2 separate regions of the Homo sapiens genome follow, and region 1 is linked to region 2. Evidence: fine-mapped expression QTL. A gene starts in region 2. The other region holds a variant in brackets. All regions are shown on one strand. Distances are from middle to middle.

What was found. PIP is the estimated chance that this variant, and not a neighbour inherited with it, causes the effect.
Region 1: its variant is fine-mapped to the expression of RAB11FIP4 in whole blood (TOPMed, PIP 0.97).

Annotation. Positions count from the first base shown.
Region 1 is chr17:31,489,263-31,500,805 of GRCh38, forward strand. The region is part of intron 3 of RAB11FIP4 (RAB11 family interacting protein 4); the gene reads left to right. Among named protein-coding and RNA genes, the nearest start is that of MIR4724, 40 kb to the right of the region's middle. RefSeq lists enhancers at 9,651-10,612, 10,613-11,543. The variant T/C (reference allele first, on the strand shown) is at 5,604.
Region 2 is chr17:31,385,472-31,397,014 of GRCh38, forward strand. It overlaps RAB11FIP4 (RAB11 family interacting protein 4), which reads left to right and starts at 6,204. Exons shown (of 15, transcript NM_032932.6): 1 at 6,204-6,540. The coding sequence starts at 6,382. RefSeq lists an enhancer at 5,419-6,008.

The sequences.
Region 1 (11,543 bases), 100 kb after region 2:
AAAAGCAATGGGGCAGGCACATTCCTTAGAACATCCCCAGGTCCTGGCCCAGCTGAAAGGTGGTTACAGTGGTTGCTGGGATGGGAAAAAGGAGACTCAAAGGGGTCGGAGGCAGTACTAATTGTGTGCCACTAGACCTCTGCAATGGGAGCGCTCTCACTCCCCCCCATATCCTCCCCCCACCAACTAGCCTTGCGTTGGTGGAGTGCCTGAGTCGCTGCCTTTGACTGGGGTCTCCCCCAGGTGCTGGCACCCTGGCACTGGCCCAAACCTTACCCTGCTTTCTGGCTTTCGGGGACTGTTGATTATGTTCCCAGGGAACATTACACACGGGACACTTCCCTGCCTTCAAGGTGTTTGCAAGCTCAGGCAGTCTGAATACTGGGTCTGCTCTGGGCCTGCCCAGCTCTTCTAAGTTGATTGCAAGTTGCCTGCAGTTGTCTTTGAGGTCCCTGTCACTTCACAGGGGAGAGTGTCGCCTGGCGGGGTGAGGGAAGCCGCTAGGGTTCTTCACTGCAGAAGGCAGCACCCCTTGGGCAAATGCGTAGTGGAGAACAGCTTCGGAATTTGAAGGGGGGGCCTGGACTTAGGCGAAGGGGGTGGAGTAAATGACTAAGGCCAGTAGAAGAGATAAGACTGGGCCGGAGGCGAGGGGCGGGACTAGCCAGGCCAGGTGAGCCAGCTGGAAGGCATGACCTTTGCCCTAAGGGAGGTCTGTAGGAGAGACTGCCTGGAGCCTGCCCTCGGAAGGGACTTTTAGGCAAGTGGGGGAGGAAAAGCAGAAGAAATTAGAGGGCCCATTGGGTTCTAAGCCACCTCCTTTGGGGTTCCAGGGGCAGCCTGCACTCGGAAGGCTCTGGGCTGCAGCTTGAGATACTCCACCGGCCCTCACTCTCCCTCCCGACCATCTGTGCCACTTCTAAAGCATGCTAGTGCCTTCCTAGCCCCTTCCCCTCCTGGTAGGCAGGCTGCTTCAGACCCAAGGTTTTCTCTTTGGCCGTTCACCTGGGGCCCTTGCAACTCCCTCCTTCATCTGTACCCGTAGGTATCTGGCAGTCCCCGATCTGGGCAGCCCGTTATGCTGAGGTTTTTCACAACTGATTCTGTTCTGAGGAGACTTCGCAATTTCACTTTATATGTTTTAGGTATGGGTAAGGAGGGGGTGAAGGGGGTAGGAGAGGCTCCCAATGAAATAGCAGGTGAGCAGTTCCCAGAAGGCAGGCATCTCCGAATGAGAAAGGGCATGCTGTTTCCTGGCACAGGGCTCATTGTGTTTGAAAAGGAAGCATCTTTTTTTTTTTTAATTGAGTTGAGACAGGGTCTTGCTCTATGGCCCAAGCTGGAGTCAAGTGGTGTGATCAGGGCTCACTGCAGCCTCCCACCCTCCCAGGCTCAAGCAATCTTCCCACCTCAGTCTCAGCTGGGACTACAGGTGTGTGCCACCCTGCATCTGGCTAATTTTTGTTTTTGTTTTTGTAGAGATGGGGTTTTGCCATGTTGTCCAGGCTGGTCTTAAACTCCTGGGCTCAAGGGTTCTGCCTGCCTCACCTTCCCAAAGCGCTGGGACTACAGGCATGAGCCACCACACCCAGCTGAAGCATCTTTATCTGTTCGTGCCTGCTGTCTGGTGTTAGCAGTGGGGCACAGTGCCCTGGCCTTGCCAGGCATACAGAACCCCTGGGGCTGGACTCTGTCTTCCTCTGGGTCAGCTCTGCTGGCTCTTGACTCAGGAACTGGGCACCTATGGCTTCAAACACTGGCCTCGAAGATCAATGCCCAGTTACTTCATCTCAGGTCTCATGGCTGGATTATTGGGTGGTCCCATCCATACCAATTAGGCACCACAAGACAGGCCTGCCTATTTGGCAGTCCCACCTGGTGCCTTACTGGATGTCGTACGATCTTTGCCCCTGAATGGTACCACAGTCTCCCTCACCAGGAGGCGTTTCAGGACACGGAGGCTTCCCCATTTCTGTTTGCTCAGCCCCCAGCACATTTCCCAGTACAGGGCAAGTGGTACTGAATTCATTCACCAGATTCTTCGTTGCCTACTTTGTGCCAGATTCTGTGCTGGGCACTGGAGATACAGCAGTGAACAAAACAGACGAGAACCCCTGCCTTCAAGGAGCTCGCAGGATGGTAGTGAGGCAGGTAGAGCAGTAAAACACGGAGTATGGGAGTTGGCAGGAGGAAGAGCAGGGAAGGGGAGGGAGTGCTGGGTTTCAGAGTCAGACAGGGAAGTCCTCACTGAGAAGGTGACATCCAAACGAAAGAGGTTCAGGCAGAGAAAAGAGGAACTGCAAGGGCCCTGAGGTGGGACGGTGGCTGGCATGCTATGTCTGTCCACAGAACTACAAGACAGGATGTGATTGGAGAGCAAGCCAGGGCTGGGGGGACAGGGGACAAGCTCAGAGAGATGGGGGACCACCCAATGCTGTGACAACCCAGAATCCCAGGAGGAGGAGGAGAGGGGACTGACAGTACAAGTGAGACTAGAAATCCACAGGCACGAGCTGCCTTCCATTGCTCTGCCCTTCTCAGAGCCTCCGCGTCGAGGGGATTTGGGCATTGAGGCATTTCTGGAGGACAGGCTTCTGTGGCCACTGCTGCCACAGACTTCCCTGCCCTCAGCTTGAGTTGGGTCAGACGAGCCTGTCCATGTGAACGTGGAAACATTTCCTGCCAGACTATGCTGTTGCCACCACACGAATCAAACCAGCAAAGGGCACGCCGGCGATGTGCATACAGCTGTGTCTCTGACAGCTGCCTGGGCCTGCCTGCTGTTCCCACGGGTCAGCTCCTGTCGGGTAGGGACAGGTCCTGCTCTCAAGGCTCATAAAGCAGCCAGCAGCCTGCCCGTGTTTTCCGTACTCTGGCCTGTGTCACCCAGGCTGTCTCCTCATCTCTTGTCTGATCCTCAAGGGTTCCCTGGCCTCCCTCTTCACTCCCTCTGCCTGTGGCAGGCAGCAGCACAGTTCTATGGGGTCCTAAGGACCCCAGGGAGTCACTCCCACATTTGAGCAGCAACTTTGGGTTTAGTCTGTCCAGGTTAGGGCCCCAGATCATATATATGTGTGTACACACACGTGTGTTTGCGTGTCATGCGGCATTCGGATGGGGCATCCTGTTCATCCACCCCCCTGCTATGGGGTGGCTGAAGGTTGGGGTGCCCTCTGAGTTTTTGGTGGGTGGGGCTTCAGCAGGGTGTCTTGGCTACCTCTCCTGGCCAGCACATGTTATCCTGGGAGGATTTGTAGCTTTGGGCCTGACCACGGTTCCAAGCACCATGATCTGGAGCCCACACTGGGTGGCAGGCTGCAGAGAAGGTGCCCCCAGAAGCCTGGACTGCACCCTTATCTGTTTTCATTTGGAGCTATTTTCTCATTATCTCATGCCAAGTGTCTGACTACACATGGCAGTCCTTCCCCAAGTGTTTGCAGCTTCATCATAATACTGTTAATTGAATGGAATTTGTCATTGGCCAGCTTCTGTGGACCCCATTCAAGGCTGAGTGGATGCTGGGGGCGCCCAGCTGGCCTTGCTCAGAGGGGTCCCGAGCGTCTTGGTGCTTCAGGAGCTGAGCCCCCCTCAAGAGCATTGATGACAAGAGCTCAGATTCTCAGAACCCCCCTGAGCACCCAGACAACCTTGGTGGTTACTTCTTCACTTTTTCGCATGACCTGGAAAGGAGATGAGACGGGGAGGAGAACATAGGCAACCAGAAGGACGTGCAGCCTACAAGGGTCGTATGAAGGTCAGAGGGGTGGCTGTGATGGCCCAGAGCTGTGGGGTCTGAGTGACCTCCAGCCCAGAACCGCCCAGCAGGCCAGTGCTAGTCATGCCAGCACTTCCAAACCCACTTCTTGACTGACCTTAAGAAATGGGAAGTTTTCCAACTGTTGGTCACATTTTTAATTGATCTAACCTGCTTCATCTTCCCAGACAAGTGGGTTCTTTCCCAACAATGTAAACATTAATTCAGATGAAAACAAAGCTCTGTAGAAGTTATTAATATCTGTGGCTCTGCTCATGGGAGCCTTTCTCTTTTGAGGTACCAGAAAGAGGAAGGCCTAAACAGAACTGGAGTGTGGGAGAGTGGGCGGGCTCTCTCTCTTTAGTCATCTGTGGTCACCCCCCACCCCCCTGCGCTGTGCAAGCCTGATACCATGGAAAGGGAACCCACATTTCAAATAGCTGCTGCTGCTCCGGTGAACTTGGGGTAAGGGAGCTGAGGGGTGTCTACCCTCTGCACCAGACTCAAGTCTCCCTCCTAGAATAGGAGCGAGAATAGCAGCAAGTCCCTGCCCCCTGCTCCCTCGTTTTCCTGGAAGAAATGCCTACCTAAGACACAGACACCTGCATCCCACGCTTTGTCACCCAATGCCTGTTTCCTTAAGGAGAAAAAATGGGCGCCAGAAAACTTCTAGGTCTAGATCCTGGCTCTGTTGCTCGCTAGTTGTGGAACTTTGGACAGGCGACCTCACCCTTCTGATTTCACTTTCCCTGGCCTCACTCTTCACTCCCTCTGCCTGTGGGCAGGCAGCAGCATGGTTCTGTGGGGTCCTAAGGACCCCAGGGAGTCACTCCCACATTTGGGCAGCAGCTTTGGGTTTAGTCTGTCCAGTTTAGGGCCCCAGATCGTATATGTGTGTGTGCACACACGTGTGTGTTTGCGTGTCAGGCAGCATTCAGATGGGGCATCCTGTTCATCCACCCCCCTGCTTTGGGGTGGCTGAGGGTTGGGGTGCCCAACAGGTAGAATGGGGTTGATAATAGCACCTGCCTCGCAGGGTGATGGTGAAAATAAAATGAGCCATGGTGATTTAAGATGCCCAGTCTAGGTTCTGGCCTTTACTTAGTTGACACTCGTGGACGGTTAGATGGTTAGAGAGGCAGGCCAGTTTAGTACCAAAATGCCTTCAGAGTCAGGCTGTCTCTGGGTTCAGATCCTGGCTCTGCCCCTTGCTATTGGTGGAATCTTAGACAAGTTATTTAATTTCTCTGTGCCTCAGCTTCCCCACCTGTAAAACGAGGATGAGGCTAGTACCTCCCTCACAGGGTTCGTGGTAAGAGGATGAGGCTAGTACCTCCCTCACAGGGTTCGTGGTAAGGCTCAAATATGTAAATGTATGAAAAGCACTTAAAACTGTGCTTTGGGGTGAGCTGTTATTCTTAGTTCCTGCAGGCTTCAGCTGGTTTGATTGTTGTGACTAATAACCTTCGCACCTAACAGAATGTCTTGCCGGGGAGTGTCATGGCCCAAACAGGAAGGTGGCAGCGGAAAAACTCCATTACTCAAGGGCCTTTGCAAGAGAAGCAAAACTCTACTTCCTCAGCTTCTGTGGGTTTTTAAATCTTTTTTTTCAATTTTAATTTTAATTTTTTTAAAAAAAAAGTAGAAATGAGGTGTTACTATGTTACCCAGGCTGATCTCGAATTCCTGCCCTCAGGTGATCCTCCCACCGCGGCCCCCCAAAGTGCTGGGATTACAGGCATGAGCCTCTGCACCCAGCCAGCTTCTGTGTTTTTAACAAACCTTGCTCGGGCTCTGCAGATACAGATTCTGGGTCTGGGGTGAAGTGACTAGCATTTGTGTGGCAGTC[T/C]GTGAATGAGATGTCAAGCAGCTTCCGAGGTAACAGACTTCTCCCCAGGTTCAGTGAGGGAGACTGTACCTAGCCTGTCCTTCCAGAGGCTGCTCACACTGCCAGGCTGTGGCTGGCCTGCCAAGGGGAGGATGGCCCTCCACACCTCGGCCCACCTGCCCTTCACCTCCAGCCAGGGCCTGCCTGTCCATCCACCTGTGCCTAGCTGGAAAAGCTGGCTTGGAGCAGTGCTGCCCATCTGCCACTGCCAGCCCCCAGCATCTGCCTTATTAAAATGCTGAGGCTCTGGCTGGCCACAAGCCCCAGGAGATTTGGAGAAAAGCCAGACAAAAAGGTGCAGGCTGTGCCACCGCCCAGCCACACTGGGTGACTGCCCTTGGTAGTTAACCACAGAGTCATCCAGCTTGGCTGCCCAGAGGTCTATAGCTCCACTCAGGCGAAGCTGGCTAGCCTGGCCTAGCCTGGCTGGTTAGGTGGGCAGGACAGCCTCCACTTGACTGATTTTTTTTTTTTTTTTTTTTTTTTTTGAGACAGGGTTTCGCATTTCTGCCCAGGCTAGAGTGCAGCGATACAATCTTGGCTCACTGTAGCCTCGACCTCCTGGGCTCAAGTGATCCTCCCACCTCAGCTGCCTGAGTAGCTGGGTGCACCACCACTCCCGGCTATTTATTCATTTGGTAGAGATGAGGTCTCACTATGTCACCCATGCTGGTCTCAAACTTCTAGGCGCAAGCAATCCTTCCACCTTGGCCTCCCAAAGTGCTGGAATTACAGGCATGAGCCACCATGCTTGACTCGTCTGACTGATGTTAGGCAACCTTGAATTGATGGTCTCCTGGTGAAATGAGGGTTCTTGTTGACAAGGCAGGTCTGGCCAACACATTTTTGTATGATTATCTGCACGATTGCATCAGTTATTAGCAAAGAAGGATTTTATAGCAGCAGGTGTGTGCTCATGTGCTTGTGTGGAGTTGTTGACTGCCCTTCACTGCACACACACAGTCTGCGGAACTGTGACTGAATCCCTGTTCCCTACTCACACTTACATGGTATTTTCTGGGATTCTAAGGCACATTCTTTTTTTCCTTTCCTTTTTTTCCATTTAACATCTTAAATTGGAATGTGTCGCACATTTGCGGATTATTATAATTTGACAGCGCCTTTTTCTTGGCATACTTGAAATAACGGTGCATTGTAAAATCAGAGGTGTCTCAGATTTAATGAAATAGAAACTAGGTAACCTCTGGGGAACTTATATAATTTGTCCAGTTCCTCCAAGGATGCAGGTGGAGCCACCTTGTAGTGGTGGCAGATTATATGAGGGGACCCTGATGTGGTTCAAGGGGACAACCTTGGATTGGGCTTAGATTCCAGCTTTATGGCTCGCCAGCTGTGTGGCCTTGGCAAAGTAGAGCGACCTCTCTGAGCCTCGGGATTTTCCTCCCACCACATATGAATCGTGGCTCCACAGTTGTCATGGCTGTGTGCAAGGCAACATTCCCTGTTTCTCTTGCTGGGTATCATCTAAGGTCTGCCCCGTTCCATCTGGGTTAAGAGGGAAAATGAGGGCTGGGAGTGGGTCACTGGCCTTCCCAAGGGAGCAGAGGGAAACTGGTGTTCCAAGGGCTTCTTGACTCAGTTTATAATCCTTGGACATTACTCTTCTTCCCTCGTCCTTCTCCCCCTTTGCCTGAGTTTTCATTTTCACATGTGTTTCCTTTTAGCAATTTTCTTTCAAATCTCTCCTCTCCCTTTCTGTAAAGTCTTCCCACATGTAGCCTCTTTGAAGCTCCCTGGGGTGGGAAAGGGGAGGAGGGCTCTGCCTGATGGCCTGGATGGCACAGACCTCAGAAGCCCAGTGTGCTGTGGTCCCTGCAAGCTTCAGCTCAAGTCCAAGTTCTGGTACCATCAGCGTTGCTAACTGCCATTCCTGTGGCTGCAGGGTCAGCCTGAGTCCACTCCAGTGCACAGTGTTGTCCATGGGGTGCTGGATGTCGCATCGCTGAGAGCATTTGGTATTCTCTGTACCCTCCTTGCTGCGTTAAAATCAGACCTGGTTCAAATCCCAGCCCTGCGACCTTTCACGAATTACTTAACCTCCTTGAACCTGTGTATTCTCATCTAAATAGTGGCTGATGCACAGAAATACCTGGCACACAATAGGTGCTTAGCAGATGCGTGCTTTCCTTGTTCTCAAATGTTTAAGACCCCTTTGTGGACAGGCACGATGGTTCATGCCTGTAATCCCAGCACTTTGGGAGGCCAACGCGGGCGGATCACCTGAGGTCAAGAGTTCGAGACCAGCCTGACCAACATGGTGAAACCCCATCTCTACTGAAAATACAAAAATCAGCCCGGCGTGGTGGCAGGCGCCTGTAATCCCAGCTACCTAGGAGGCTGAGGCAGGAGAATCGCTGGAACCCGGAAGGCAGAGCCTGCAGTGAGCCGAGATCATGCCACTGCACTCCAGCCTGGGCGACAGAGCGATACTCCATCTCAAAAACAAAACAAAAAAAAAACTGCTTTGTGCTTGTTTAGGTGTTAAGGATCTCGGGGAGTGCCAGCCAGTGGCACTGCTCCTGAGACAGACGGAGGAGTTCTGGGCAGGGGGCAGTGGCAAAGGCACAGGGGCCTGTGTGAGCAGGATGTGTCAGGGGCCCCGTCCTTCAGGATGGCTGGGCTGCAGTGGGGTGAGGCAGGACGGAGAGAGAGGAGGAAGAGTGGTGGGGTGGGCACCCAGTCGGCACCTACAGGGGTGCACATGACAAGGCTGCACAGGGTCTGGCTGGAGCAGTACAGAGGGTTAGGTGTGGGCTGTTCATGGAAGTCGGGGCTGAGTTGGGGAGGCACCAGGAGACAGCCACATGGGGATGTCTGGGTGACAGTGGCCCCCAAGCAGGGGCTGAGTGTGCGCTGCTGGCTAGAGGGAGGCTTTAAGAGCAGGTGATGGTTTTAAACCTTGTTTTCCTTGGAGATCTTCTCTCTGCCCCCTCCCTCTTGAGATTCCAATGAAAGCCAGTAGCCCAACCTCCTCAGTTTTGTGTGTAGTGTCAGAGATTCGAAGCCCCCTCTTTGATGAGGTGGTGCTTATGCCCCCTGTGCATAAGAAGCAGCATGTGCTGAGGCATTGGGGTGGGTAAAGGTGCCCAGGAGCCTGGGGTACTAGGGAAGGGGAGAGGCAGAGCATGTCCTGAGGCTGAGACCTGCTGGAAGGGGCTTTGCGAGCTGCTCTCAGGAGCTGGGCCTGGTTCTGTGGGCAGTGGGGAGCTCACAAGCTCTTAGAGGGGGTTCCCAATGGACTCCCTGGGAGGGAGAGTCTCCACCCCATGAGCCCCTAATGCCCTCTCACCTGTCCCCACTGCGAGAAAGCCTGCCCTGGCCGGAGGCCCTAAGCTGAGCTCTGGCCAGCTATGCTTGAGTGACACCCCCCAACCCCCCATGCAAGACAGCAGCTTCTGGAACACGAAGCTTGGGTAGCTGGGTCTAGCAAAGGCCACAGGACAAAGAGAGACACCTGAACTGAGCTTGCTGGGAAGACCATGGGGGCTATGTGCTGATGGGAGGTACCAGAAGATGGGGCAGGGAGGAGGAGAGGGTTATAAAAACCAAGGGCTCTGGCAGGAGGCCCTGCAGGGTTGGGAGGAGGAGAGTCACCCTGCTGACCCTGACCTGCCTGCTCCAGAAGGGCGGGTCACGTGGAGCCTTGGCCATTGGCTGTGGGTAAACATCGGTGCTCTGCTGGCTGTTCAAGGCCTGAGGGTTCTGTGGCAGAGGAGGAGCTGGGTGGGAACCCACCCTGGCTTTGGACCGTGGGTCAGCTCCATCCAGGCATGCTCTCCTTGAGTTGGATAGTGGCCTCTCTCTGGAAAGTTCCATGTCACCTCTTTGGAGGGTGCTCCCCTGAAAATGTAGCCTGACCTACCCGGTGGACTCTACGAGAAGAAAGAGCTGGCCTGAGCCACTGTTTTCCCTCCCAAACCTTCACTTTGAGTGAAGTGTTTTTATCATCGCTCCTCTTATCATGATGGTAAAGTATGGAGCCCCCAAAGCAAGCCCCACAGACTCTTGGTTGTGTGAGTAATTAAGCCCTCTCTTCAAAAAGCCACATCTTGAAAAGCTATAATTTGTAGCAAAAAATAGCTGCCCGTTCCAAGAACCAGGAGAGCCCTTTATACGCACCCCATTCAACTGCAGCACGTTACTTCGCTTTTGAGTTGAGTTGCTGGGACCTCTGGTCCATGCTTTTCTTGGGGGAACCAGAGATGCAGTGGCTGCATGGGAACTGGAGCTTCCGGTAGGCATTTGGGAAATCTTTTCTGAGAATTTAGATGGGACGATTTAAATTAGGGAACTCCTGATTTGGGTTTGCATGGCCCCAACTTTTTGTGTGACTCCAAAGGGGAGTAAAGAGAAAAACTGCAGGATACTTCAGGGGAAAGTGGATGAGACTCTCTGGACACCATTCCCCCACTTTTTCTTTTCCTTCTTCCTTTCTTTCTTCTTTTTTTTTAGATAGAGTTTCACTCTGTCGCCAGGCTGGAGTACAGTGGCACAGTCTCAGCTCACTGCAACCTCCTACTCCCTGGTTCAAGCGATTCTCCTGCCTCCGCCTCCCGAGTAGCTGGGATTACAGGCACGTGCCACCGTGTCCAGCTAATTTTTGTATTTTTTAGTAGAGATGGGGTTTCACCATGTTGACCAGGATGGTCTCAATCTCCTGACCTCGTGATCCGCCCGTCTCGGCCTCCCAAAGTGCTGGGATTACAGGCATGAGCCACCGCACCTGGCCACATTTCCCCATCTATAAGGAGGAAAATGATAATTACTTGCAGGGAGTTTACCACCTCTGTAAAGCACAGAGCAGACTGGCCACATGGTAGGCGCCCTAGTATGTCAACTTTGTTCTCTTTCTCTGAGTTGTGGCTCCACTAGCTATTTGTAGACAGGAGATCTTTGTGGCTTCAGGTAGGTGATGGGGGACTGAAAGCTAAGAGGAAAAGCCTCCCCTGACCTGCAGCTTCTCTTTGAGCTGGCATGCCTGGAATTCTTGGGGCTGGCTGCTGGGTTTGTTTTCCAGATGTGGAAGCAATTTAAGTTCTGTTTTCTTAATCCCCAACAGTTTGCCTCCGAAGTCCACATTCTCATTTGAAAATCAAGGCCGTTGGCTCTGTTTGCAGGGCAGAGGGTAGGCTAGATAGCCTCTTCAAACCCTTTTTGTTTAGGAAATGGGCTTACTGGGGCACTCAGATCTGGGACCCAGGGCATTCTTGGGACAGTCACACCCCATCCAGGACTTGGTTAAAAGGTGAGTTCACTTTCTCTGTGGGTTTTCCTTGGAGATGATTCACTGAGCTAAATTCAGCTGCACCTTGGTTACAAACCAGCTCTAGACCGCTGTGGAGTGGCGGGGGTGGGGCTCGGGTTTGGGCCATGTCACAGGCCAGCTGGCGTCCCTCTGAGCAGGGTGCCCACGTGTCCCGGGGGCAGTAGCGGCCCTCCTTCCCACACTGACCACAACAGAGGGAGGAAAATGCTCCAGATGTCAGGTAGCCAGAAATACTGTCTGGCACGGAGAAACTGGTAATATCTTGTTCAGTTACTGAGCGCTGCTGGTCACAGAGGCAGCCTGACCCAGGATAAAAGGCTCCTTGTGTGAGGGCCTGTGGCTCCAGGGCTAACTGCTGATTTATTCTCTTGTAAAGCAATCGCTGTGTAGGTAAAATACCTTTTACATTTGTCTTATAACTATACTAAATACAGTTTTGGGCAAACAAAAATTGCCTTTGCAATTCTAACGTCTCTGAACTGTGCATATGCTTCTCTGAAATTGAAATAGAATACTTATACTACTGAGAGAATGCACAAGAAAATGGAAGTGGCTGGGCATGGTGGCTCATGCCTGTAATCCCAGCACTTTGGGAGGCTGAGGCGGGCAGATCA
Region 2 (11,543 bases):
TCCAGGCACCTGTTCCCGCTCCTCCTATGGCTCTGACAGCACTTCCTTCACCTGCCTCTTAACTCTCGGCTCTTGACCCTGTGTCTGTTTTCCTAATCTTGGAATGATCCCATCATCCCTGAGAAGACATCTGGGCGCCCTGGCCAGGGGAGACAGCTGATGGGCAGAGCATCCCTGTGTGTGCATCACGAACACACTGTAGAGTCTGCAAAGTTCTGTGAGGGCAGAGCAGTAAGGGCAGCTGACTCAGGGAAGGCTTCTTGGAGGGGGTGGCATTTGAAGGATGGCAGTGGGGGTGGTGGAGGGAGGACAATCCAGGCAGAGGGAACAGCATATGCAAGGCAAGCCAGGCATTTCACTGATCAATTCCATGTTGAGTCACTGTCTTGGAGTCTATGCCACACAATGCCTGGGATATAGTAAGTGCTCAATAAATGTAAACTGAGTATAGTAGATGATGTTACTGCCCAGCCATGTTTTACAGAATGGAGAGCATCAGGCTGTAAAGGGCCTTCCTGCTTGCCGCTCACCCTGAGGATTGAGTTTTTCTTTTAGGCAGAAGTGGGCAGTAGAGAAGGCTCAAAGCCAGGGAATGTGAGTGGATTTGACTCACCAAGGACACTGCTTCCTAAGCCAGGAGGGAAATATTGGTGCCCTGCCTGGAAGTTAGTTTCAGGGGCCATTTCTGCAGCTGACAGAAGGATCTGGAGCCCAGTTGGGTAGAATAAGTTAGGTTTTGGCATTTCTTCTTAGAATCCCGGAAGGAATTTTAGCAATCAGCCGGTCCTGCTTCTAAGGGTCAGAGAAGATTCTGGATACCCCTCACATCAACAGCTCATGCAGCAGAGGAAAGATGAGGTCTCAAGGTGCCCCCCTGCACCCCAAGTGTGCCCTAGTCCAGCCAGGGTCCTCAGCACTCCACAGGCAGGGCTGGCTGTGTCTCCAAGCAGGGGCCTCTCTGCTTTTGCTCACAGAAACATATTCTGGGATCAGTGAAGAAGGAAAATAAGTTCACGGCACCTTCTTCCCCTTCAAAGTGATAATTATTCATGGGTTTAAAAAAACCCAGCAGGTTGTGAACAGGAAGTAACTGAATCCTGCCCCATTTCCAGACAACATGGACAATGAAGTCAAGGCTCACAGATGAAAATACAGAAATGTTCCCCCTTTTAGACTGGTTCTAAACTGCTCCATACTGACACACATAATCACCACCCAGGTGCCAGGTACTGTGCCAAGCGCTGGGCGAGGCATGACGCAATCTTTTTTAAATTAAAAGCCTGAAGGACCTCTACAAGGTAGAAAAACTGAAGCTTAGAGAAATTAACCTGACCAGAGTCATGGGGCTAAAAGAGCAACAGATGTTGGTGCCCAGCTCAGCTGTTTTGAATTCCAAAGCCTGGCTCTTCATAATCTTTGATAACTTCCACATGATATTCATCCCATCTGTATTCATTTCTCATGGCTGCTGTGCTAGCTCCCACAAACTTGGTGGCTTAAAACACCAGAAATTTATTCTGTAACAGTTCTGGAGGCCAGAAGGCCAAAATCCAGGCATCAGCAGGGCTGTGGGCCCTTCAGAGGCTCTGGGAGGGATTCTGCTCCTTGCCTCTTCTGATGGCTGCTGTTGCTCCTTGGCTTATGGCTGCACCACTCCAATCTCTGCCTCTGTGGTCACATTACCCTCTCTTTATGTGTCAAATCTGCCTCTGATCCATCCTATAGATATGTGTGATTGCATTAAGGGTCCACCTAGCTAACCCAGAATAACCCCCCTGTCTCCAGATCCTGTTGTTTTTTTTGTTGTTAGTTTTTTTTTTGTTTTTTTTTTTTTTGGAGGCAGGGTCTCACTCTTGTCACCCAGGCTGGACTGTAGTGGCATGATCTGGGCTCACGGCAACCTCCACCTCCTTGGCTCAAGCCATCCTCCTGCCTCAGCCTCCTGAGTAGTTGAGACTACAGATACATGCCACGATGCCCAACTAATTTTTGTATTTTTTAGTAGAGACAGGATTTCATCACATTGCCTAGGCTGGTCTCGAATTACTGGACTGAAGCAATCTGCCTGCCTCAGCCTCCCAAAGTGCTAGGATTACAGGCGTGAGCCACCACGCCCAGCCTCCAGATCCTTAATTACATCTGCAAAGACCCTTTTTCTAATGAGGTAACATTTACAGCAGGGGTCCCAACGCCCAGACTGCAGACCATTACCAGTTCATGGCCTGTTAGGAACCACAGCAGGAGGTGAGCGCCGGGTGAGTGGGCATTACCGCCTGAGCTCCACCTTCCGTCAGATCAGTGGCATTAGATTCTCATAGAAGCGGGAACCCTATTGTGAATGGCGCAGGAGGGGGATCTAGGTTGCGCACCCCTTATGAGAATCTGAAGCCTGATGATCTAAGTTGGAACAGTTTCATCCCAAGACCCTCTTCCCCCGACTTGTATGAAACCAGTCCCTGGTGCCAAAAAAGGTTGGGGACCACTGATGTACAGGGATTGGAATATAGATATCATTTAAGGGGGCATTTTTCAGCCTACCATGCCATATTTGTCCATTCCTTAATTTATTCCTACACAGACCCTAACTATGTGTGTATGGGCATTATTTAGGAGCTACAGAAATCAGGAGAGAAATAGACACAGTCCCTGCTCCCAGGGACCTCATGGTCACTCCTGTGACCTTTCATACAGTTTCCCAGATAATCCGGTGATAGACAATAGGAGTAAGATGGTAAGGATAGTCACAAGGACAATAGCTGTCACTAACCAGCAGCACTGTTCTGACACTTACAATGTATGTATTAACTTACTGACTCTCACCACAGCCTTATCCATACCTGTAAGTGGGCTGCAGTCTGTACTTTTCACTTCTCTGCAGGAGCACATGGGAGAGGTGGTCAAGGTGGGCAAGGAGTGGGGTGGTCATGAAAGGCTTCCGGTAGGAAGTGCCACTTCCACAACACAAGGACAGGAATTAGAGAAAGTGGAATTGGGTGGGGGTAGGATTGAGACCTCCCACCCACTAAGCAAAGGGAGGCAGGAGGGAGCCTGGATGCTCCCAGACTAGGGTTAAGGAGAGGCAGGAGAGTATGAAGACACTGCACAATGCCAGCTCAGGCAATGGTGGCCATTGAGTTTTCAGCAGGGGAGGGACCTGATCAAACTTGTTTCTTCCTAGAGAAGGGGCCGGAGTCCCAACTGTCCCTTCCATGTATATTTCCCAGTATATTTCCAGCCTGCCCAGGCTGCTGCAGCTGTTGGAAATCCCCTGGAGAATCAGAGGTCACCTGGAGGAAGCGGAGGACAGAAAGGAGGCTCCGCGCCTTCCCGCCCTATCCATGGGGACCTCTTGCTTTCCTGGAGCAACCCCCTTCACCCTGCAGCCGGCCCTGACATGGGTATTCTCTTGCTGCTTCTGCTCGGGGCTGCACTCTGAGCTCTTGGATCAGGGTTTTGGGAGCCCTAGTGGTCCCAGGTCCACTTCCAAGGACCCAAGGACTCCATAAATTGCACCATCTCTGAGGGACCTTTGGGTAGGCACTCAGCCATTTCTGCAGGCCCTCTTGGGCTCCTAGAGCCTGGCACCTCAGTGTAGATCACACTGGGCCATGACTGCCCCCATCAAGTTCAGCAAGTGGCTGCACCCCTTTCACTGTCTCCCTAGCATACCCAACACAACGTAGGTGCTCAACAAAAACGTGACAACCCCAGAAAGAATGCCTGTGACGTGCTTTGCTGGCCCCAGCAGCACAGCGGTGAGCAAGAGACCCAGTGCCACTGGTGGGGGAGGCAGGTGTCCTTCAAACCATCGCCCACCAGAGACAAAACTGCAGAGACCTGGGCAAGGAGAGTCCGGTCAGGGAAAGCTCTCCTGGGGGATTTTTGAATTTGTGATGATCCTGTCTTTGACAAGAACTGGCTAATCTGGTTGCGGGATTCTGTCTTGGTTCACTTGGGATTTGTTCATGCTCAGGTCTGAGGTCCCCGCCTCTGCCAGCTGAAGTGGGTGAGTCTTCCAGCTCCCCTGTCCCCAGTTAGGGGGCATTCAATGCCAGGCTGAGCGCGGAGAGCCATTTCTGCAGCCCCCACCAGGGGGCAGCCCCAGCTCCTGGCCATCTCCTTTCTGTGCTGAGCCCCTTGGGTGAGAGAAAATGGCACGAGCTGACCTTGGACGAACTAATATCGGGGTCCCAGGGGCAGGCAGCAGCCCCCAGCTTCCACTCCCTACCTCCTTGCCAGGGGGCTGGCTGGATCTCCAGCAGCCAGTCTCTCCCAGCCAGCTGCTTGTCCTTATTCTCCACTTCCACCTCCATTTTGCAGGGTAGGTCGGGGGAAAGCAGCATTGCTTAGATTCGCTCTCATCTTCAGTTGCCCTAAAAGGAAGGTACTATTATCCTCACGGTACAGGCGAGGAAACCGGCTAAAATATGCTAGTATCCTGCTGAGCGGCATCCAGCTAGCAGAGACGCTCCTACTCAGCCGAATACCCCTACTCCACTCCCACGGCCTCCCCTTTCCCGCTTTCTCACATTTCGGACTCCTCAATCCTCAGAACCACAGGTCTCTCTTCCCAAGAGGTGTTGCCTTTCGTGGCTCTCAGACGAACTGAAGGGTCAAAGGAGAGTAGCTAAAAGCCAGGTTCATCCCAGGAGCCGGGGCTGGAAAGAAGAGGTCCCCGCCCACTGTCAGAAGGCAAATGGCAGTCCCTGCGCAGGATATATTCAGGGTTGAGCAGGAAGACCACAGAGGTACAAACCGAGGCCCAGCTAGGGGAGGCCATGCAGTTCACCCCGTACTCCCTGTCTGCGCCACTACGTTGCTCCCGGCTCCTCACATAATGGGCGGGCCCATCCCCTCTGGGTGGGGCTTCCTCTGGGCCCACTCTTGCCTGGAGATCAGGGACTTGAAGGTAATTAAGACATATCTTGCCCTGGAGGGCTTCCCAGCATGGTAGGGGAAATGGGCATCCCACTAGAGAATTAAGAATTAACTGGGCACCTGGAAGAAGGGCTTAGAACTCAGAATAGAAGATAAGATGGCGTGCCATCAGAGAAGCCTTCCCGGAGGAGGAAACCTCTGTGCTGAGCATGACAGCATAGGTGGGAGTAGACTCAGCCAAGGCCTTTTTTTGGGTTGGGGCCAGTCGTTGCCACAAAGACCTGATGTGCCGAGCAAGAAGGTGGAGAGAAGAGCCCGGCCGGGTCCTGCAGGGCCCCGAGGCTGGGCTGGGAAGTTAGCACAAGCTGGGGTGGAGGCTCCGCTGAGCACTAATGGGAGGAGGCCAGGGTCCTGACCTAGAGCCTGCGGCCAGCGGGACAGAGATTCTGTCCTGGATTCTCTGAGCTTGGGGCATGCGGGCTGCCAGGGAGGTGTGATGGTGGGAACCCGGCGAAAGGGAGGAAGCCTCTTCCAGGCGTGGAGCAGCCTTGGGCCCTGAACAGGCAGGCCTCTGGAAGCGCCTCGCTTTTCCTCCCTCCGGCCTCATCCTGGTTTTCTCCTCATCTCCCCGTCGCAGGGTCCCGGGTCCAGGCTGGGGTTCAGTTGCCTGCTCCTCCTCTCTGTGCCCTCCCCCGCCCGATGGCCCCACAAGTGCTGTCTTGCAGGAGAGCGCCGGGAGACCGCAGGGCGGAGGTGAAGAACGGAGTCCAGAGCCCTCCAGAGATGGCAGCGAATCCCGGCCCTGCCTCTTGCCAGCTGTGTGGCCTAGAGTGAGTCCGACCTCTCTGGGCCTCAGCTTCCTCCGGGATGAATGCAGTCACGGAACGCGCCAATGCAGGAGGCCCCCAGGACATCCTGAGCGCTCGGGAGACGCCAGGCGCGGCAGCGGGCACGGATAGCGGAAAGGGGCGCGACCCCGCGGAATCCTCCGGCAGGGCAGGGCCTTTGGGTGGCTCCGGGTGTCCAGAGGAAGGGGTGGGCTCGGGGACGCGGAGGGAAACTGGGGACGCGGAGGGAAACTGAGGTCGCGGAGGACGCGGCCGTTGGCAGCTCGCTGCGCCTGCCGGCCCCGCGTGGGCCGCCCCACTCGGGAGGACGCGGGCTCCTTTTGTCTGCAGCGTCCCCGCCGCCGCCGCCCCCGCCGCCTCCCCCTCTCCCTCCCATTTTCGCCGCGGCCCCCGCCCCTCCCCTCCCCGCCCCCTATTGCCCCTCCTCCTTCCCCTCCCCACTCTTCTCCTTCCCTCCCCTCCCCTCCCTTCCCCTCCGGAGCGGCTGGGGCTGCGGCGCCGCTGCTGACACGGATCGGCCGCGGCCGCCACCGGGCGGAGGCTGCGCGGCGCAGACCCAGACGGGCGGCCCCGGAGGGCGCGCGGCGATGGCGGCGGCGGGCAGGCGGCGGGCGCGGCGGGCGAGGGGTCCGGGCTGAGCTGCGGGCCGGCCCGGATGGCGGGCGGCGCGGGCTGGTCGGGCGCCCCCGCGGCTCTGCTGCGCTCCGTGCGCCGCCTGCGCGAGGTGTTCGAGGTGTGCGGCCGCGACCCCGACGGCTTCCTGCGCGTGGAGCGCGTCGCGGCGCTCGGACTGCGCTTCGGCCAGGGCGAGGAGGTAAGCTGGCCCGACCCCAGTCCCGGCCCGGGGACCCCAGCCCAGCCCCGCCGCCCCTCCCCCAGCTCCCCCGCCGGGTCACCCGCGTGGCCCGAGGCGGTGGCCTCCCTCCCAATCCCCTCCCTCCGCCGGAGCCCAGGACCTCGGCCCCCCCCGGGTATCCCTGGCCCAGCCGGGCCCTCGCTTTCCGCCCCCCGGCGCCCGTGCCCCGAGCGTCACGCGTCACGCCTAGGGTGGCTTCTGCGCCCACCTTCCTTCCTCGGCCATGCAGGTCCTTCTGAGCGGTCTGCACATCCACCCTTGTCTGGGGGAGAGAGCTGCCAGAATCCGGCCCTAGGCTCCCCACCCCACCCGGCGCTGCGGAGACCAAGATGCAAGGGTCTGTGTACGTCCTGCTGGGCCGGGCCAGGGGGTGAAAGGGACCGGTAGGGGTGCTCTGCAGCCTTGGCTCCTCGGCTGCACACACCCTGCCCAGACACGGAAGGAGGTGTCTGCTGGGGCCACCGTGTACTCCCGGGCCAGTGTCGGGTGACCTCTCATTCAGGCTCTGCTGGGCAGCCAGGCTGGCAGCTGGCTGTGTTGGTTGCAGCAGGCCAGGCAAAGCCAGGCTCGGGGAGTGGTGGCTGAGCAGAGGGCTTTCATGTGGCGGGGCCGCATCTATTTGGGGAAAGCAGGACTTACGTAGATTGTTAACAGGGCTGGAAGCGGAGGGTCGGTGCCGCCAGTAGGGTGGACGGAGTCATATCACTAAACGCACACTACACCAGTGTCCTCTGGTGCCACCGGCATGGGGACTGGGGACTGTGTCTCAAGGGGAGGACAAGACACCCACCTGGCTGAAATGGTCAGGGGTTTCCCCTGGAGCCAAAAGCCCTGAGAAGTGGGTTTCCAAGGCCATCTAAGGCCTCAGGCCCTGCATGGGGGGCCTGGGGCCATGGGCCTCAAATGGGCACTGGCTGGCATTGTGTTCCCAGAACAGGTCGGACCAGGCATTTCAGAACATGGGAGAAGCTGGGTGATGGCCAGGTTGGGCCCGTGCCTCTGCGTCACCAGAGAGTGGGAGGCGATTGAGAATCATCTCTCCACCCGCACCTGGGCATGGGCCGGGACTTGTGAGTCGCTGAGAGCTGTGGGCAGAAGAGAGTGAGGCAGCTTCAGGGCTTGAGAACTCAGGTACCCACCACAGGAAAGACCACTGCAGTGCCTGTGAGAGCCCAGACTGCCCTCTGCGGGGCTTTGCTGAGGGACACTGCCTGCTGCCACCATGACCCTTCTTCCCCAAAGGCCAGCCAAGCCCTTCCGTTTTTCCAGTGGCTCCCATCTGGGGCAGGCTGAGCAGACTCCTGGCATGGGGATAGTCGCGCTCCTTCCTCTCAGAACACAGACTGCAGGTCGGGTAAAGAAGCTACCAGCTCTGGCTGAAACCTGGAGTCCCCGAACTCAGAGCCTCAGTAGTGGGAAGGGCCTCCCAACAACCTCTGGCAGGGGCCACCGGCCTCAGCCACGTGCCCAGCAAGCCTCACCCACTTCTCCCCCAGCTGGACAGTTCCTGCCATTAGAACCTTCTCCCTCATACACTCTAGAGACAGACCTGCTTGTCACTTAGTCATCACCGTTCTGCACGGGGACTCACATAGGTCTCTCTTCTTTGGGGGAGCCTTTAAATATTTGAAAATAGCACTCCTGCCCCTTCTCTCCTTCCCAGCTCCATACTCCCATTTTCCCTTCTCCAGGCCAAATACCCCAGTTCCTGAAGCCCTAGGCCATTTCCATGTGACCCAGTAGCCAGACCTCTGGCTTCTGGCCTTGGAGCTGCCATCGACTAATTCTGTGATTCAGTTTTCCTAGCAATAACATGAAAGGGCTGGACAAGCAGACCGCCCCCCGCCGCCCCCACCAGGACTATATTAGCCCCAAGACCTCACACATATGCACACAGCTTAGGGTGGGGCTGCCTCTGAATGGGGCACTGCACTCTGCTTATATTAAGTTTCTGGCCACCGAAACCTCCAGGGATCTGTTTTAGAAACCTCTGCCAAGCCAGGGATTCTCCACCCTTCGGGGAGGGTCAGTGATTTTTTTCTTTTAAAAGCATACTCTGAGATTACTACAGAAGCGGTGGATATGCATTGCAGAAAACTGGAAATAGGGACAAGCAAAATAAAAAGTATTGTGTCCTATCTCTCAGGCAGCGCCTCAATGACACTTCTGTCAGACCTTTCCAGAGCTGTTTCCATGCTTATATGTCAATTTTCTCCAGAAAATGAGATCATACTGTGCATACTGTTTTGTAACCTGATTTTTTTTGCCGGTAAATGATCATGACTTTTCTGCTTCAATAAATTTTCATCTGGTTTAATATGCAGACCTTTTTCAGATTTCCCTATTTGACCCCAAAATGTCCATTTTTGCTGTTTCCTCTCCAGGACTGTGCAGTGTATGTGGTTGTTGTCACCTTTTAGTCTCTCTTACTGTACACAATTCCTTTTTCTTTTCTTTTCTTTTCTTTTTTCTTTTAACAATCCTGGCTTGTGGAAGCATTCGGGCCTGTTGTCTGTCAGTAATTTCTGGAATCTAAGCCTGTTTCTTGGCCCTTATTCCCATTTAATTTCGTCTTGTTCATTTCATCACATTGTATCTGTCAAGAAAGAGAATCTAGCATCCTACCTCTATCACTCTCAGCTGTGCTGCTGCCTGCGGGCTGGAGAAGCAGTGCTTGGTGTGTCTGAATCCACAAGGCTGGTTAAACATTGCAGGGCAGGACCATGGACAGGGCCCCGAGGCACTTGTAGGGGTGGTTTTCGGCTTATGCTGTATTGACCGAGACCCGTGGAAATATATTTTGCATCTCTACTCACTACCCATCTTATCCCCTGATGCATTAAAAAATCGGAGTGTTGTTTTCCAGCGGTGGGGTGGCGGGGGGCGGGGGGGGGGGGCTCCCTTACGAAATGCAGTGTACTCTGACTGTTTCTATTTTATTTGTTTTAAAATCAGGCAGTGACATTGATTTCCCAGCCACTTGTGCTCTGGGATGGATAATGATCATTCATTAGATATGTAGTTCAGTGAACTTAGAGCTGATTGTCCACAGTTTACCACCTACCCCCAGAATACCAGGGATACCAGGATCAAATGCTTTGCAAAAACCAAAATATACTAGGTCATAAAGTATGAAATAAATATCCATGAGGCCATAATGAAATATATATATGTATAAATTATTGAACAGATGATAATAAATAAATAGGAAAATCTCTCGTATAGAAGAAATCTGAATAACGTATGTTGATAATTGCCCCATTGAGGAAGTGAAGCATAACGTCCCACCGTGTAAGCATGAGATGTGCGTAGTGGCTTCCTTATAAAGGGTAGAGTTTGGAAAGTGGGGGGAACAGCAACTGTATAGTGGAGAAACCCAACAAACACTGTCTCAGAAGGTGATCAAGGACAACATCGATAGTGACAGATTGTGATGATGGCATACACCCTTGGTGTGATGTGGTGAGAATAGAACTTTTCCTCTGTGGTCTTCCTCCCAAACCAGTAATCCCAGTCTAGTCCTGAGAAAAATGCCAGACAAATCCCATCCGAGAGGCATTCTACAAAATGCCTGATTAGGACCTCTCAAAATTGTCAAGGTCATCCAAAACAAGGAAATTTTGAGACACTGTCAGAGCCAAGTGGAGACTAAGGAGGCAGCTGACTAAATGCAGTGTGGTGTCCTGGATGGGACCCTAGAATCAAGAAGAGGACATTAGGTAAAAACTAAGGAAGTCAGGATCAAGTATGAATGTTACTTAATAATGTTATTTATGGATTAGGTTAGTCCCTGATAGTTCCCTACTTTGTTGACCTAGGTATCACAGCAGAAAAGAGGAGACAATGGGCCGGGCGTGGTGGCTCATGCCGGTAATCCTAACACTTTGGGAGGCTGAGGTGGGAGGATCACTGGAGCTCAGGAGTTCCACACCAGCCTGGGTAACATGGTGAGACCCCCCATCTCTACAAAAAATACAAAAATTAGCCCGGTGTAGTGGCGTGCACCTGTAATCCCAGCTAGTTGGGAGACTGAGGCAGGAGAATCGCTTCAACCTGGGAGGCGGAGGTTGCAGTGAGCTGAGATTACATCGCTGCACTCTAGCCTGGGTGACAGAGTGAGACCCTGCCACAAAAAAAAAAAAAAGAAAAGAAAAGAAAAGAAAAGAAAGAAATGCAGATTTTTGAGGGATGGGGGCACACCACTGCCCTGATCCTGAAAGTCTACAATGCCAGGGAGCAGGACTCTGATAAGTATGTAACATGATGGCTCAACATCCTGACCCTGTGTTGCCTTCTGATATATTGCATTGTCTCCCTAACCTCTTTAGGCCTCTATTTACTCATCCATCAAATGGGGCTGATCAGAGTCCCCATTCTATAGGGTTATTGTGGGGTTTGAGTGAGTTAATACATACAAAGGGCTTAGTCCAGTATCTGCACAGAGTAGGCATAATATCAGAATTGCTGGTGCTCTCCTTGTCATTATTATTATTTTCTAAACACTTGCAAGCATTTTTGAGAGGCTGTTCTAGGCTGGAGATTTGCTAGGAATTGAGGTCAAGATCTGGCACCGGCCTCTGTGTGCTCAACTCACCCTCCTTAACCAGCTGTGGTGTTCCTGCCCCTCTTACGTCCCCTCGGCAGTCAGAATGGTAGACATTGAAAGCAGCCAGAGATGTCCTGGACCACACTTCCCTGTGACATGGTCCTCTTCCCTTTCCAGTTTGAAGACCGTCCTTCTTGCTAGAAAAATAGAAATAAGAATCACCAAGTAGGCCTCTCCCATGCATTAACACAGCACCATCTCCTCTGGACAGTGGGCCTGTCCTGCCTGCTTGGAAATGAAATGATGGTCCCCACTGGGCTCCCTGAGTCCTCAGGTCCCCTCTGAGCTAATGCCTGCTATGGGGGAATTGCTAGTGCCACTTGGGTTAAGCCTGGGTCTTTGAAATGGCAAAGGG